4 separate regions of the Homo sapiens genome follow, and all the other regions are reported to be linked to region 1. Evidence: microRNA targets listed by miRTarBase, many of them from high-throughput screens and not tested one by one. Region 1 holds a microRNA gene; each other region holds the end of a gene's coding sequence.
The links. Region 1 holds the annotated microRNA hsa-miR-326 (CCUCUGGGCCCUUCCUCCAG, at 1,544-1,563, opposite strand). A microRNA usually pairs through its seed, bases 2 to 8, with sites in the 3' UTR of a target mRNA and lowers its output. Matches are read on the target gene's strand: a 7mer-m8 pairs with bases 2 to 8, a 7mer-A1 pairs with bases 2 to 7 and ends in A, and an 8mer does both.

Region 1 (3,230 bases):
TATTGAGCACCTACTGTGTACCAGGCACTGTGTTAAGCCATGCATTATCTCATTTAAGCCTTACCACAACCCTATGGGGGTGAGGAGAGGATTTTATTACCCCCATTTTAAAGATGACAAAACCAAGGTTCAGAAAGATTATGTAACCGTCTCTAGGTCACAGGCATAACAAGCAGTAGGGGTGGGATCTGAAACCTAGCCGGACATCATGTTTGTTCTTCGAAGCCCTCCCCACAGCCACCTGTCTTAGGGAAGCACAGAAGGCAAGACATTGCTGCCAACAAACTCCGCTTCCCTGACTCTGCAGAGGGATGCACCGCACCCTGCCAGCCTGGCTTCCTTTCTGAGCAGGAAAGGTCAGCTCGGCCTGCCCTGGCAGCTCCCCTCAGGCACCAGACCAGCCAGACTCCTGACCCAGTCCCAGGAGCAGGAAAGGCCTGTCCAGACTTCTACTCTGCCCCACTCCCACAGAAGGTCCCATCCCAGGCCGGGCGCGGTGGCTCACGCTTGTAATCCCAGCACTTTGGGAGGCCCAGGTGGGCAGACCACAAGGTCAGAAGTTCAAGACCAGCCTGACCAACATGGTGAAACCTCATCTATACTAAAAATACAAAAATTAGCTGGGCGTGGTGGCATGTGCCTATTATCCCAGCTACTCAAGGCAGGAGAGTTGCTTGAACCCGGGCTGAGATAGCACCACTGCACTCCAGCCTGGGTGACAGGGCAAGACTCCGTCTCAAACAAAAAAAAAAAAAAAAAAAAGGCCCCATCCCGGTTACAACAGCCCCTTCCCAGGCAAGCCGTGCTCCACAGTTTATAACCACTTTCACCCTCTTGATTCGTCTGACCACCTCACCCCAGCAGCTTGTATCCCAGAGCCTAATACCAGGCCTGGCACACAGCAGGTTAATTTGACAGACAGCAGGACAGACTATCCCAATGAAAGGCATGGGCTCCCCTGAGCCATCTCCATCCAGCTTTCATCAGCATTTCCTGAGCTCCCAGGACAAGCCTGGGGCTAGACCAGGCAGTTTCACCTATGGTTCATTATTTTAACCTTTCCAGGAAGGTCTTATCTCCATTTTGCAGAAGAGGAAGATTGAAGTCAGAGAAGCCTTTCCAGTCTCTAATTTACATGGCAAGTGAAGCTGCAGGTTCAGCCTGCCCCAGAACTGGCTCCCCTGGATGCCTTTCAGGTGTTGCTTCTGTAGGGAGGGCTCTAACCTATGACAGATCTCTGCTGTGGGATGAGAGCCCCCTGAGGACATGCAGCAGATGTGGCACCAACATCCTAGCCCAAACGAAAACTTGCCACAGCAGGGCAGAGCTGGGCTTGGGCGCCTAAAGCTTACAGAGCTTGGAAGGTTTTTTTTTTGTTTGTTTGTTTGTTTTAAAAAAAAAAGAGTACAAAAATAATTTCCTTTTGCAAATTTCACAAAACCCCTGAGCACATGGACACATTGCTAGGCCTTGGAAAGGGCCCTGGAGCGTGAAGGGCTGGAAGCTGAAGCTGCATCAGCCTCATGGTGAATCCGCCTCGGGGCTGGAGGAAGGGCCCAGAGGCGATCTGAGCACCACCCGCCTTCACAAAGGCCCTGCCTCCAGCCCAACAGACAGATGAGGCTCCGGAAGACATTCCTTCTTCTTGATGGGAGTCCCGCTGCTACTTAACCCTCCCTGCAGTAGGTCCAAGTCTGTCTGTCTTTCTCTTGCCATGGTTTCAGAAGAAGCAGATCTTGGCCGGACGTGGTAGCTCACACCTGTAATCCCAGCACTTTGGGAGGCTGAGACGGGAGGATTGCTCGAGCCCAGGAGTTCAAGACCAGCCTGGGCAATGTAGCAAAACCACATCTGTACAAAAAATTTAAAAATTAGCCTGGGATGGTGGCGAACACCTGTGGTCCCAGCTACTCAGGAGGCTGAGGAGGAAAGATTGTGTGAGCCCAGGAAGTCAAGGCTATAGTGAGCTATGATCACACTACTGCACTCCAGGCTGGGCAACAGAGCCAGGCCCTGTCCCTGTCTCAAAAAAAAAAGAAGCAGAGCTCAGCTGAGTCTCGGACCTGCCTGCGGAGGTCTGCTGCTCACAAGGGCAGCACTGCCAGATTTCTTTGTGATCCTGGGGCACAACCCCAAGAGGAGCCTTCCATGCCTGGGCTGGAATCCTGGGCCTGGAATCCTGGGCTGGCAAGGGCTGCCCTATTAAGAACCCCATCCTCAAACATTTGTAGGGTATGATACAGTTTACCAAATGTTCCCACATCCCACATCCACATCCCGTTTGGCCCACACGACAGTCCTGGAGGTGAGCAGGGCAAGCTTTATTGTCCCCCTTTTATAGACGGGGACAAAACATGAGACTTGCTGTGCACCTATTGCATACTAAAGATGCCAAGGGGCTTTCCACACGTGACAACTCACAGATACCCTGTGAGAAACCAAGGCTCACTCAGTGTCTGGGGCTGGGCCTGAGAATGAGCCTGCAGCCCTGCTCTCCCATCTCGCAGCCCGTGCCTCTGCCCTGTCTCATCTCAGTCTGGCATGGACAGCTCAGAAGGCAGTGGGCAGGCACGCTGAGACTCAGTAGGTTGAGGAAGAAGAGGCCTCCAGCTACCAAGGCGGAAGAGTAGCTGAGGGCTCAATATATTTAATAGAAATCAAAAAAGTGAGAATCAACCGTGCCCTCTCTGGATGTGTCTGAGGAAGAGCACATGGCCCTTGGGAGCCTGAAACCTGTTTGAAAGCAGTCACCTTACAGACTCAGGGCCTGATGTCCTCCCCACACCCTGCCAAGCTGCAGATGGCCCCACCCCTACCTCCCACTGTCCACATGCTAGGCCTTCCAGACCCTTCTGCTGACTCCTCTCAGCGCCCAAGGCAGCCACCCAGTGCTTGCCCTGGCCTGTTCAAGTCCTACTCCTGTCCTTCACTAATGCTTGCTTAATTCGTGGATATACCTACTCTACGAATCTTTATGAGAAGATACTGTAGGGTGACCCACAGTCCTGATTTGCCCAGGAGTGAGCTGAGGGGTTTCCTGAGATGCGAGACTGAGACTGTCCCAGGAAAATTGGGATGGCTGACGACCCTCATGTACTGCATGCCTGGTCCCTGGGCTGGGTGCCAAGGACACATTTATCTACCAAACATAGTCACTGCCCTCAAGAAACTTCCAGTCGGAGAGTGGCTGCCACTCAATGAGAAACCACTGTCAAAGGCACCTGTTCAGC
Region 2 (3,000 bases), not on the chromosome of region 1:
GCTAAAAGTGATCCTGTACATGAGCCAGATTGTGTAATAATAAAGAAAACCAGAACATGTCTATCCCACCCCAAAAAGGGAACCTGTCAGCTTTAGTTTTCTCCAGCAGTCTTGGATTGGCATATTACTCATCTTAGGTTCCCCTCTCCCTTGTTATTTAAAGCTGTTTTGAAGTTCGTTTGGCTATTAATATCAATGCAGAAATCAGGGAAGGAAACCCTTGTGGATCATATCATGTCACTCAGAAACTATCCTCTCAACAAACAGAGTGAATCAATTAAAATGGGCAGCTTGATGACTGGCCCTTGATTTCTTGAGTTCAACAGATGAGATTAAGAGCTAAGTAAGGAGGCAGAGGCCAAGATGAGAAAGTAGGTGGACATTTTCCCTTGCACTTGGGCTTGAAGAACGAAGTCAACAGAACACAGGTGTGCCAAAAGACTATATAAAACCAGTGTCCCAGGGCACACCCTGAGTTCATGGGTGGCAAAGTATTGGAGCCACACCAACCAGACCTTTCCGAAAGAAGCCATGGTTCTGTAGAAAGTCTCAATGGTTTGGCCTCCCTCTGACTAAGAGGCAGCAACAAAGGTGGGGAATCTGAGTGAGTATGGGCAATGTCAGAGCCCAGAATCAGCAGCAGAGGAGGATGATGAGTAAACTCACCAGATGGTGTCCATCTGGCTTTAGGCTTTGCCGCTGAAGATTTTAATTCAGTAGTCAGAGTCTCCTCTTTGTTCCTTCTCTCTTCTCATGACTTCTGCAGGTGGATATGCTGGGTGACAAGAAGAGCATTTGCAGGGTTTCTGGTTCTAGTGCCTTCATTCTTCCCACCCTGGTAATTGAGTTTTCTCTTCAACCCTGATCTGGGTAGCCCCTTTAGCTGCTCTAAAGAAGGAAGTGAGAACTTCTCCACTTGCTGGGAGGGTATCATCTCTGGGGGACAAGGGCAAGACGCCCAGCTTGCCTGATCCCTTTGATGCCTTCTTTCCAGTTTGTCTAAGGGCTCCAGCGATCTGAGAGTTGGTAAGAAATCTTTGTGACTACTGGCATCTACAGATAGATGTCAGAGCTGTTGGCCTGCTAACCTTCTTGGTGGTGGGGGCTCTTAACAGAGAATCTGTGAACATGCCCAAAAGAAGCAAACAGGCTTGATGACCATGGCTGAAATGCAGTGTGATGAAATTCAGGCCCACAAAACACTGAAGGGAGGACATAAGGTGCTTGTGGCTTCACGGAGTTTGGCAGAAAACTTCATTCAGGTCTTTTAAAGGTGGGGAAAAGGTAGTGGCAGTGAGAGTTTAACTATTCAGTCAGTGTCCTAAGCAGGAGAACAGCCAAGCTATCATTTTCTTCTCCTCTGGCTCCAGCTCCTCCCTGACTCACACATGAGAAAGCAGACCTGGATCCAAATGGGGCCTTACAAAGGGTTAAATCTCTGCTCTCCTTCTTCTCAGTGGTCAGACTTTTCTGTGGAAGTCGCCAAGTTTTGGCTGAAGAGAACATTCAGTTCAAAGGTCTTAGAAAAACTATTGAAAGTCAATCTGAAGTTGGAGGCAGAGAGTGAGAGAGAAAAGGGTTTGGGGGTGAGGCATTAACATGCAGACAAATTTTCAACAACAAGCACATTTTCAGTATAATGAATTGCTCCACAGTTGAGCAGTCTAGCCCCCAGGGACCAAGGCTGTGGGCAGGTACTGATGCTCCATTGCCCTCCTTGTCCTCTCCTCTCTGTCCACCCCCCTGCCCAACTCAGCTCTGGGGTCACTCTGCCCTCTAATGGCAATAGCCATTGGCAGAAAATAAAGTCTCCCGTGGAGGGAGGAGATGAAAAAATCAGTAACTCCCCATGGGCCTGCAATTTTCACCTTCTCGTCACTATTGGCCTCTTTGGGGATTTCTATATGTTTGTATGTATGTGTGTATGTATGTACGTATTTATTTATTTATTTATTTATTTTTGAGGAAAAAACACTAGCAAGGTTTTTTGGCTTATTTTTTGTTTTGTTTTTGCTTTTTTTTTTTGTTTGCTTGTTTTTGTTTTGATTTCCCCAGATAATCTTAGCTCTCTAAACTTCCCGTGGCATAAGATAAGTAAACGTTTGTGTGGCTGGCACAGAGTAGTGCTGTAAACAAGCACAACTTGACACTGGGCCATATGAGGATCATCACAGATTTAAAGGCATACAACACCATTCAAAACACAGATAGGAGCCACAATGGGAAGCAAAGTCTGAAGGTGCCATGGGAGGGTTAGATAGGGAGGGAAGAAGAAAAAGAAAGGAGAGAAAGAGAAAAAAAAAGCCCAGCAAATAGAATTCAGGAACATGTTCATGACAGACTGTACATCAATAGAGGAAATTCCCCAAGGCACTGCAGAGGAGTAGTGCAGAGTTATAACAGGCAGAAGACATCTGAAAGGGGGCATGAGCTGGGGTGGGGAAATAGGGTTTCCAATGCTTCACTGGGTGTGGAAATAGATGGGCTTGACTTTCCCAGAAAGGATCTTGGGCACTTGCACAGAGATGATCTCTGCCATCATTTCCGGAAAGTCCACGCTCACCATGTGTGACTTGATTAGCAGGTCAAAAGTGAACTGATGCAGCTCTCTCGCAATCTGTAGGGAACAATAAGAGGGAGAAAAACAGGGTTGACAAGGAGGTGGCCTCTGCTAGCCTCTTCCCCAACCTCTGATTTTTGGTCTTTCAGCCTTTTGTTTCCTCCCCCTTCCCCGTACTTCCTTGGTCCTCCCCCATGAGGTCGTGTGTGTGTGTGTGTGTGTTAGAGAGAGACAGCGAGAGAGAGAGAAAGAAATGGTCTCCATGGAGTCACTGAGGGCTCCCAAGAGATGTCTTATACCATTGTAAGCTCTCTGACTCAAGACTTCTCCAGCTTGTGCTCTCACCCAAGCCTCCGCACTCCATCTCTCTCTCTCTCTCTCTCTCTCTGACACACACACACACACACACACACACACACACACACACACAGACAGACAAA
Region 3 (3,230 bases), not on the chromosome of region 1:
CGGAAACTACCTACATGCCCCGCGGTGGTCAGCCCGCCTTATCCCAGCCCCGAGACCCAAAACAAGAAGCATGGACTGAATTTGAGGTTTCTGGATGGTCGTGTGAACCGAGGGGACGGGTACTGGACTGACAAGAAATGAGCCTTGAAGGTCAATCTGGGTGACACCCGAGTCTCCTGGTGAGTCGGACTCCGGAGAATTATCTCAAGTCCAGCATAGACAGCGCACATAGACAGAAAAGGAAACGGACAATCCCAAGTGCCAAGGGAACCTTCCCAGGTTTCTTTAGGGCAGCTAAACTGCTCTGTCAAAGCCTAAGTCCATTTATGACAGGCCGAGCACCCTGAGCCCTCGCAGGAGACACGAGCGCCTTCATGGCCCTCCTGCCCCGCACCCACCTCTCCGCCACCCCTGCTGTCTGTCCCTTCCCTGAAACCTTTATTTCGAGTGTCTTTGTGGCTTCCCTCTTTACCATCCTTGAGTTGAAATATCACCTCTTAAGGGAAGCCTTCCCTCTCCTCCCTAGTTAAAATGATACTGCCCCCCCATACCTGTCTTCGTTGACTTACTTGGCTCCATCACAGTGTGTGTCATGTGACTCTCCCACATCCTGATTTGGAATATTGTCTCCCTACTAGAATGTAAGTCCATGGTGCCTAGAACAATACCTGGTGTACAGGAGACAAAATATTTGTTGACTGGGCCGGGTGCGGTGGCTCACGCCTGTAATCCCAGCACTTTGGGAGGCCGAGGTGGGCAGATCATGAGGTCAGGAGATGGAGACCAGCCTGGCTAACATGGTGAAACCCCATCTCTACTAAAAATACAAAAAATAGCCGGGAGTGGTGCTGGGCGCCTGTAGTCCCAGCTACTCGGGAGGCTGAGGCAGGAGAATGGCATGAACCCGGGAGGCAGAGCTTGCAATGAGCTGAGATTGTGCCACTGCACTCCAGCCTGGGCAACAGAGCAAGACTCTGTCTCAACAACAACAACAAAAAAATTGTTGACTGAATAAAGGGAGTTAGAATGTGAAGAAAAATCCTTCACCAAGCAAACATCCACCCTAAGTGAAGGTGTGGGAAGCAGCTGCAGGCAGCTTTTTCACTCCATTTTTCCATCAGCTGCTACCCTTGTGTGCCCCTCAGCACTTATGTCAAGATGCTGCTCTCAGCACGTGACATGCTAACACTGCAGACTTCAGGTCAGTCCTGAGAGGCAGGCACTGTTCTTACCCACATTTTATAAGTGACTGAACTGAAGCAAGGGAGTGGTGAGAGGCAGTGATGGGATTCAGCCCAGGAGGCCTTCCTTTCAACCATATACTGCACTGCTTCCAGGAGGCGCTTCACAGATGACCCCACCTGTGGTACACTTTCTGCTGTTCTCCAATATTCATGCTGCCTGTCCCACAATTAGTAAAATTTTAGCCAAGTACAGGACTGCCTGGCTAAAGACCACATTTCCAACAGGAAGGGGACAGGTCAGAGACAAAAAGTGACAATCCATTTCCCAGTCTGTCCCTCAAAAGTCCCACCATTAGGCTGGGCAGTGGTGAAAGCTGTCAACAGCCATCTGGGAGCCAGGGATGGGAACCACTATGTAGGAATGACAACTCTGCCACAAGGCCAGGATCTGCCCCCTCTGGACTGTTCAAGAAATAAACTGTCATGCTATGAGGGTGGGGGGCTGTACCCTACAGTCCCACGAGTTTTTTGTGGGGTTTTGTTTTTTTATTTTTTGAGGCAGTCTTGCTCTGTCACCCAGGCCGGAGTACAGTGGCACAATCTCAGATCACTGTAACCTCTGCCACCTGGGTTCAAGCGATTCTCCTGCCTCAGCCTCCTGAGTAATTGGGATTACAAGCATGTGCCATGATGCCCAGCTATTTTTTTTTTTTTTTTTTTTTTGTACAGATGGAGTTTCACTATGTTGCCCAGGCTGATCTGGAACTCCTGACCTCAAGCAATCCACCTGCCTCAGCCTCCCAAAGTACTGGGATTACAGGAGGGAGCCACCGTGCCCGGCCTGGTCCTGTGCATTTTATAGATAAGGTAACTGACAAACCTAGCCACAGTCACCCCTTCGCCCTAAAGGAGAACTGGAATTTGAACCCAGAGCCTTCTTCACCACCATCTCCGTTGTTTCTGGAAGCACCCTCCAGGCAGGCCAGCCAGCATCACGGGGCCTCCCCTGGGGCTGGAACGTCTGCAGGATGCCCCTTTGAGAAATGCTGTTCCACAGAACCCTGCCTTTCAGGCCTTGGAGACGTGGGCAGGGGAGAAGCAGCGTCCCTCAGAGCCAGGCCTGGCAGTGGTGCTAGCAGGGGCCAAGGCCCAGGGAGCAGGGTCTCCTGTCGGAGGGACCTGGGCAAGCCCCTCCACGCGCCAGCGGGTTTCTCAGCAGGGGAGGTCCACACCACACCGCTTGGGAACCTGGGTGCCTAAACGCAACAGGAGCCAAGGCACAAATTTAACCAAACACCAAGGTTGCGTGAGGCCCCATTTCATGAGCCGGGCTCCAAGGACGTGTCCTTAGGCGGCTCTGGAAGGCCCAGCGCCAGCCCCCGTCCTCTGTTAAAGGGAGCCAGCCCCGCGGCTCCGCCCAGGCATGGTAGCCTGAGCGCGCCCCCAGGGTAGTAGGGGGCACCTGAGGAGCAGGGTCTGCCCTGGCATGAGCAGAGCCCAGGATGGGGTCAGGGTCAGGCCCTGCCAGAGGCTGGAGGGTGCCCAAGGCGAGGCCGGTGAGGCCCAGCTCTACAAATAAAGTGTTTTATTTACAGGAGTTGTCTCTCCAGGTCCCAGCTCCCTGCCACCCCCACCCCAGCCCCAGGGAGAAGAGGGCGGATGCCAGAGGAGCTGGCAGAGGCTGGGCAGGTCCTGAGTGGGCCAGGCTAGGCCAAGAGAGAAGGCACGAGGCCCTGGGCGCCCCAGTCCCAGGGCAGAGGCCAGGCCTGCCTGGAGAAGGCAGCACGGGGTCAGCTCTCAGGGGTCAGGCTGGGTTCCACGCCGCCGCAGCTCTGCTCATAAGACGGTGGGGCCTCTGCGGGAAGAAAGCAGGGTCTGCGTGGGGCTCTTGGCGTCCCCTCCCTGCCAAGCCCTGGCTGTCGACTCACCATAGGGGTAGCCCCAAGAACTGTACTCTGGAGGAAGAATCAAGGTGCTGGTAGTGGGCACTGGCCCCCCGGAGCCCTCTGCAAAGTAGGGGACAGTGGCACCTGTTGAAATGCACAA
Region 4 (3,230 bases), not on the chromosome of region 1:
TGAATGGCACTTCTGAAGCGGGATAACCGCCCCAACACACGCACCCAGCCCTGCCTGGGACGGACCTTCCGGAAGGAGTGATGCTTGAGCCCAGGTCTGGACAGGGACAGGTGTTGTTGCCTCAGGTGGGGTGGGAGGTGGGCGTGGGGAAGAGGAAGGTGCTCAGTCAGGAAACTGGGGCTGCTGGGGGCCCCCTTCCCCCAGTCCTATCTCACCTCTGTGCAGGGAGAGCTCTGTGGGTGGCCCGAGGCCTGGGGCCACTCTCCTCCCTGCCTGATGGCTACCCAGGTTCACCAGGGGCCACTGGGGCTCCCACCAGCCCCTGACCCTGTGGGCCTGTGGCCTTGCAGGAGAACGTCAGCTGCCTCAACACCAGCCTGGTGATCCTGATGCTGGCCCGACGGAAAGAGCGGCTGCCCCTGTACCTGCGGCTGCTGCAGCGGATGGAGCACAGCAAGAAGTACCCCGGCTTCCTGCTCAACAACTTCCACAACCTGCTGCGCTTCTGGCAGCAGCACTACCTGCACAAGGACAAGGACAGCACCTGCCTAGAGAACGTGAGTGCCCCACCCTCAAGGGGGTGATGGGTGGGCCGCGGACCCAGGGCCTCTCAGAGGGGTGTCCCGGTGCTGGGCTTGACCTGGGTCCTCCAGGCGCCCCCCAGCCCCTCCCTCTTTGCCCAGAGCTCCTGCATCAGCTTCTCATACTGGAAGGAGACAGTGTCCATCCTGTTGAACCCGGACCGGCAGTCACCCTCTGCTCTCGTTAGCTACATTGAGGAGCCCTACATGGACATAGACAGGGACTTCACTGAGGAGTGACCTTGGGCCAGGCCTCGGGAGGCTGCTGGGCCAGTGTGGGTGAGCGTGGGTACGATGCCACACGCCCTGCCCTGTTCCCGTTCCTCCCTGCTGCTCTCTGCCTGCCCCAGGTCTTTGGGTACAGGCTTGGTGGGAGGGAAGTCCTAGAAGCCCTTGGTCCCCCTGGGTCTGAGGGCCCTAGGTCATGGAGAGCCTCAGTCCCCATAATGAGGACAGGGTACCATGCCCACCTTTCCTTCAGAACCCTGGGGCCCAGGGCCACCCAGAGGTAAGAGGACATTTAGCATTAGCTCTGTGTGAGCTCCTGCCGGTTTCTTGGCTGTCAGTCAGTCCCAGAGTGGGGAGGAAGATATGGGTGACCCCCACCCCCCATCTGTGAGCCAAGCCTCCCTTGTCCCTGGCCTTTGGACCCAGGCAAAGGCTTCTGAGCCCTGGGCAGGGGTGGTGGGTACCAGAGAATGCTGCCTTCCCCCAAGCCTGCCCCTCTGCCTCATTTTCCTGTAGCTCCTCTGGTTCTGTTTGCTCATTGGCCGCTGTGTTCATCCAAGGGGGTTCTCCCAGAAGTGAGGGGCCTTTCCCTCCATCCCTTGGGGCACGGGGCAGCTGTGCCTGCCCTGCCTCTGCCTGAGGCAGCCGCTCCTGCCTGAGCCTGGACATGGGGCCCTTCCTTGTGTTGCCAATTTATTAACAGCAAATAAACCAATTAAATGGAGACTATTAAATAACTTTATTTTAAAAATGACTGCTGTGGACCTGGCTTTTGTCCCTAGGACTGTGTTTTTCCTCCTGAACCCCAAAGAAAAGAATGAGAAGGAAACTGGCTGTGGTGTTTATTCAGGGCCCAGGGAAGGCTGAAGGCAGCAGGGGGCGATGCAGAGATGGCAGGATCGGGGCAGGTGGCCTCAGCCAGATGTGCAACAGCAGACATTCCTCTTTAGAGCCCAGGGGGTCAGGCCGTCACTCCTTGTGCTGAGGAGAAAGGGATAGCTGAGTGAGCAGTACTACCTGTCAGCCCCCACAGTCCCCCTGCACAGAGAGCAATGCCCCTGCCACTCCTCACCTTGGGGCCCAGGGCGTCCCGGGTCCGTGCCCGCAGCTTGTTGGCCTGGGTTTCCGCCATGTCTGCCCGCTCCTCCGCATCATCCAGCTCGTGCTGGGCCTTGCGATACTTGGCCAGGTTGGTGTTGGCCTGCTGCTCCTGGGGGCACACACAGGGCCTTGGTTCCGCTTGGGTGACTGAGATGCTTATTCTGGTCCCTGCCCCAGTCCAAGAAGGGAGCTAGCTCCTCCTGGTTCTCAACTTTGTTCCTATTGCCACTGTCCATCCTCACCAATACCACAGCGGGAATAAGGAAGTTGGGACGCACCAACTTCATGTGCCTTTTTGTGCCTGCCCCACCCCTCAGAGGCAGCCCCAGCCTTGGCCAGGGGAAAGCACATGGGGTCTGTTCCATGAGAAGGAGCTAGGTCTGATCTCCCCAGAGATGTTAGAAGCTTCTCTCTTCCCTCTGGGTCACTGACCTTGGAGGGTGGAGCTGCTGCTGATGCCTCACCTGGCCACAGACCCTGGGGCAGAGCTGGGGTGCCCGGTCCAGGTGTCCAGGCCCCAGCGCACTCACCGCCTCCTCAAACTGGCGCTTGTAGCTCTTGACCTTGCTCTGCAGCTTGTCCACCAGGTCCTGCATGCGAGCCAGGTTCTTCCTGTCCTCCTCGGCCTGGGCGGGCAAGGGGGACTCAGGGCTTGCTTGGGCTGGGCCAGCTCCAGGGCCACTCCCCAGGGAGACCCTGTCGCCCACCTGGTATGCGAGCTCCTTGACACGGCGCTCATGCTTGCGCACGCCCTTAAGGGCCTCGGCGTGCTTCTTCTGCTCTGCATCAAGCTCAGCCTCCAGCTCCCGTACCTGCAGGCAGGGGGACAGCCTGATGCCAAGCCCACCCCTGGGTCACCCACCCTGCCTGCGCCAAGGACTAGAGGGGCTGCACACACCTTGGCCTCCAGCTTCTGCACCTGCTTCTTCCCGCCACGGAGGGCGGCCTGTTCTGCCTCCTCAAGGCGGGCCTGGAGCTCGCGCACCGTCTGCTCCAGCGTCTTCTTCATCCGTTCCAGGTGTGCACTTGTGTCCTGCTCCTTCTTCAGCTCCTCGGCCATCATGGCCGCCTGTTGGGGAGGAGGAGCTGGTCAGGTGCCCAGCCTCAGGGAAGTCCCTCTGCAATTCTGTCCCAGGCTCCCCACAGCCCTTGCCCAGCCTCACATCAGTGATGGCCTTTTTGGCCTTCTCCTCAGCCTCCCGCCTCTCCTGTGCAGCCTCCTCCACCTCCCCGCTCAGCTGGGCCAAGTCCGCCTCCAGCTTCTTCTTCTGGTTTAGGAGGCCTGTGTTCTGAGGGGAAGAGGAGTCTCAGAGCCAGCCA

Region 2: the mRNA of AR is a reported target of hsa-miR-326. Seed matches in the 3' UTR shown: 7mer-m8 at 1,757-1,763 and 8mer at 934-941.
Region 3: the mRNA of ARRDC1 is a reported target of hsa-miR-326. The part of its 3' UTR that is shown has no 7-base or 8-base seed match.
Region 4: the mRNA of TRPC4AP is a reported target of hsa-miR-326. Seed matches in the 3' UTR shown: 7mer-m8 at 1,083-1,089, 7mer-m8 at 1,153-1,159 and 7mer-A1 at 1,273-1,279.

The regions. Positions count from the first base shown.
Region 1 is chr11:75,333,565-75,336,794 of GRCh38, forward strand. MIR326 (microRNA 326) reads right to left here and starts at 1,622; the gene lies at 1,528-1,622. All of the region lies in intron 1 of ARRB1 (arrestin beta 1), which reads right to left. RefSeq lists enhancers at 1-57, 1,126-1,660, 1,661-2,194.
Region 2 is chrX:67,723,303-67,726,302 of GRCh38, reverse strand. AR (androgen receptor) reads right to left here. Exons shown (of 8, transcript NM_000044.6): 8 at 1-2,617. The coding sequence ends at 2,462. Among named protein-coding and RNA genes, the nearest start is that of NXTAR, 60 kb to the left of the region's middle.
Region 3 is chr9:137,614,883-137,618,112 of GRCh38, reverse strand. ARRDC1 (arrestin domain containing 1) reads right to left here. Exons shown (of 8, transcript NM_152285.4): 7 at 3,113-3,230; 8 at 2,753-3,039. The coding sequence ends at 2,975. It overlaps ARRDC1-AS1 (ARRDC1 antisense RNA 1), which reads left to right. Exons shown (of 3, transcript NR_122035.1): 2 at 1-179; 3 at 1,914-2,781. Among named protein-coding and RNA genes, the nearest start is that of ARRDC1-AS1, 2.4 kb to the left of the region's middle.
Region 4 is chr20:35,000,737-35,003,966 of GRCh38, reverse strand. TRPC4AP (transient receptor potential cation channel subfamily C member 4 associated protein) reads left to right here. Exons shown (of 19, transcript NM_015638.3): 18 at 351-557; 19 at 684-1,563. The coding sequence ends at 821. MYH7B (myosin heavy chain 7B) reads right to left here. Exons shown (of 45, transcript NM_020884.7): 40 at 3,074-3,199; 41 at 2,809-2,979; 42 at 2,618-2,722; 43 at 2,441-2,536; 44 at 1,882-2,019; 45 at 1,530-1,790. The coding sequence ends at 1,779. Among named protein-coding and RNA genes, the nearest start is that of MIR499B, 12 kb to the right of the region's middle.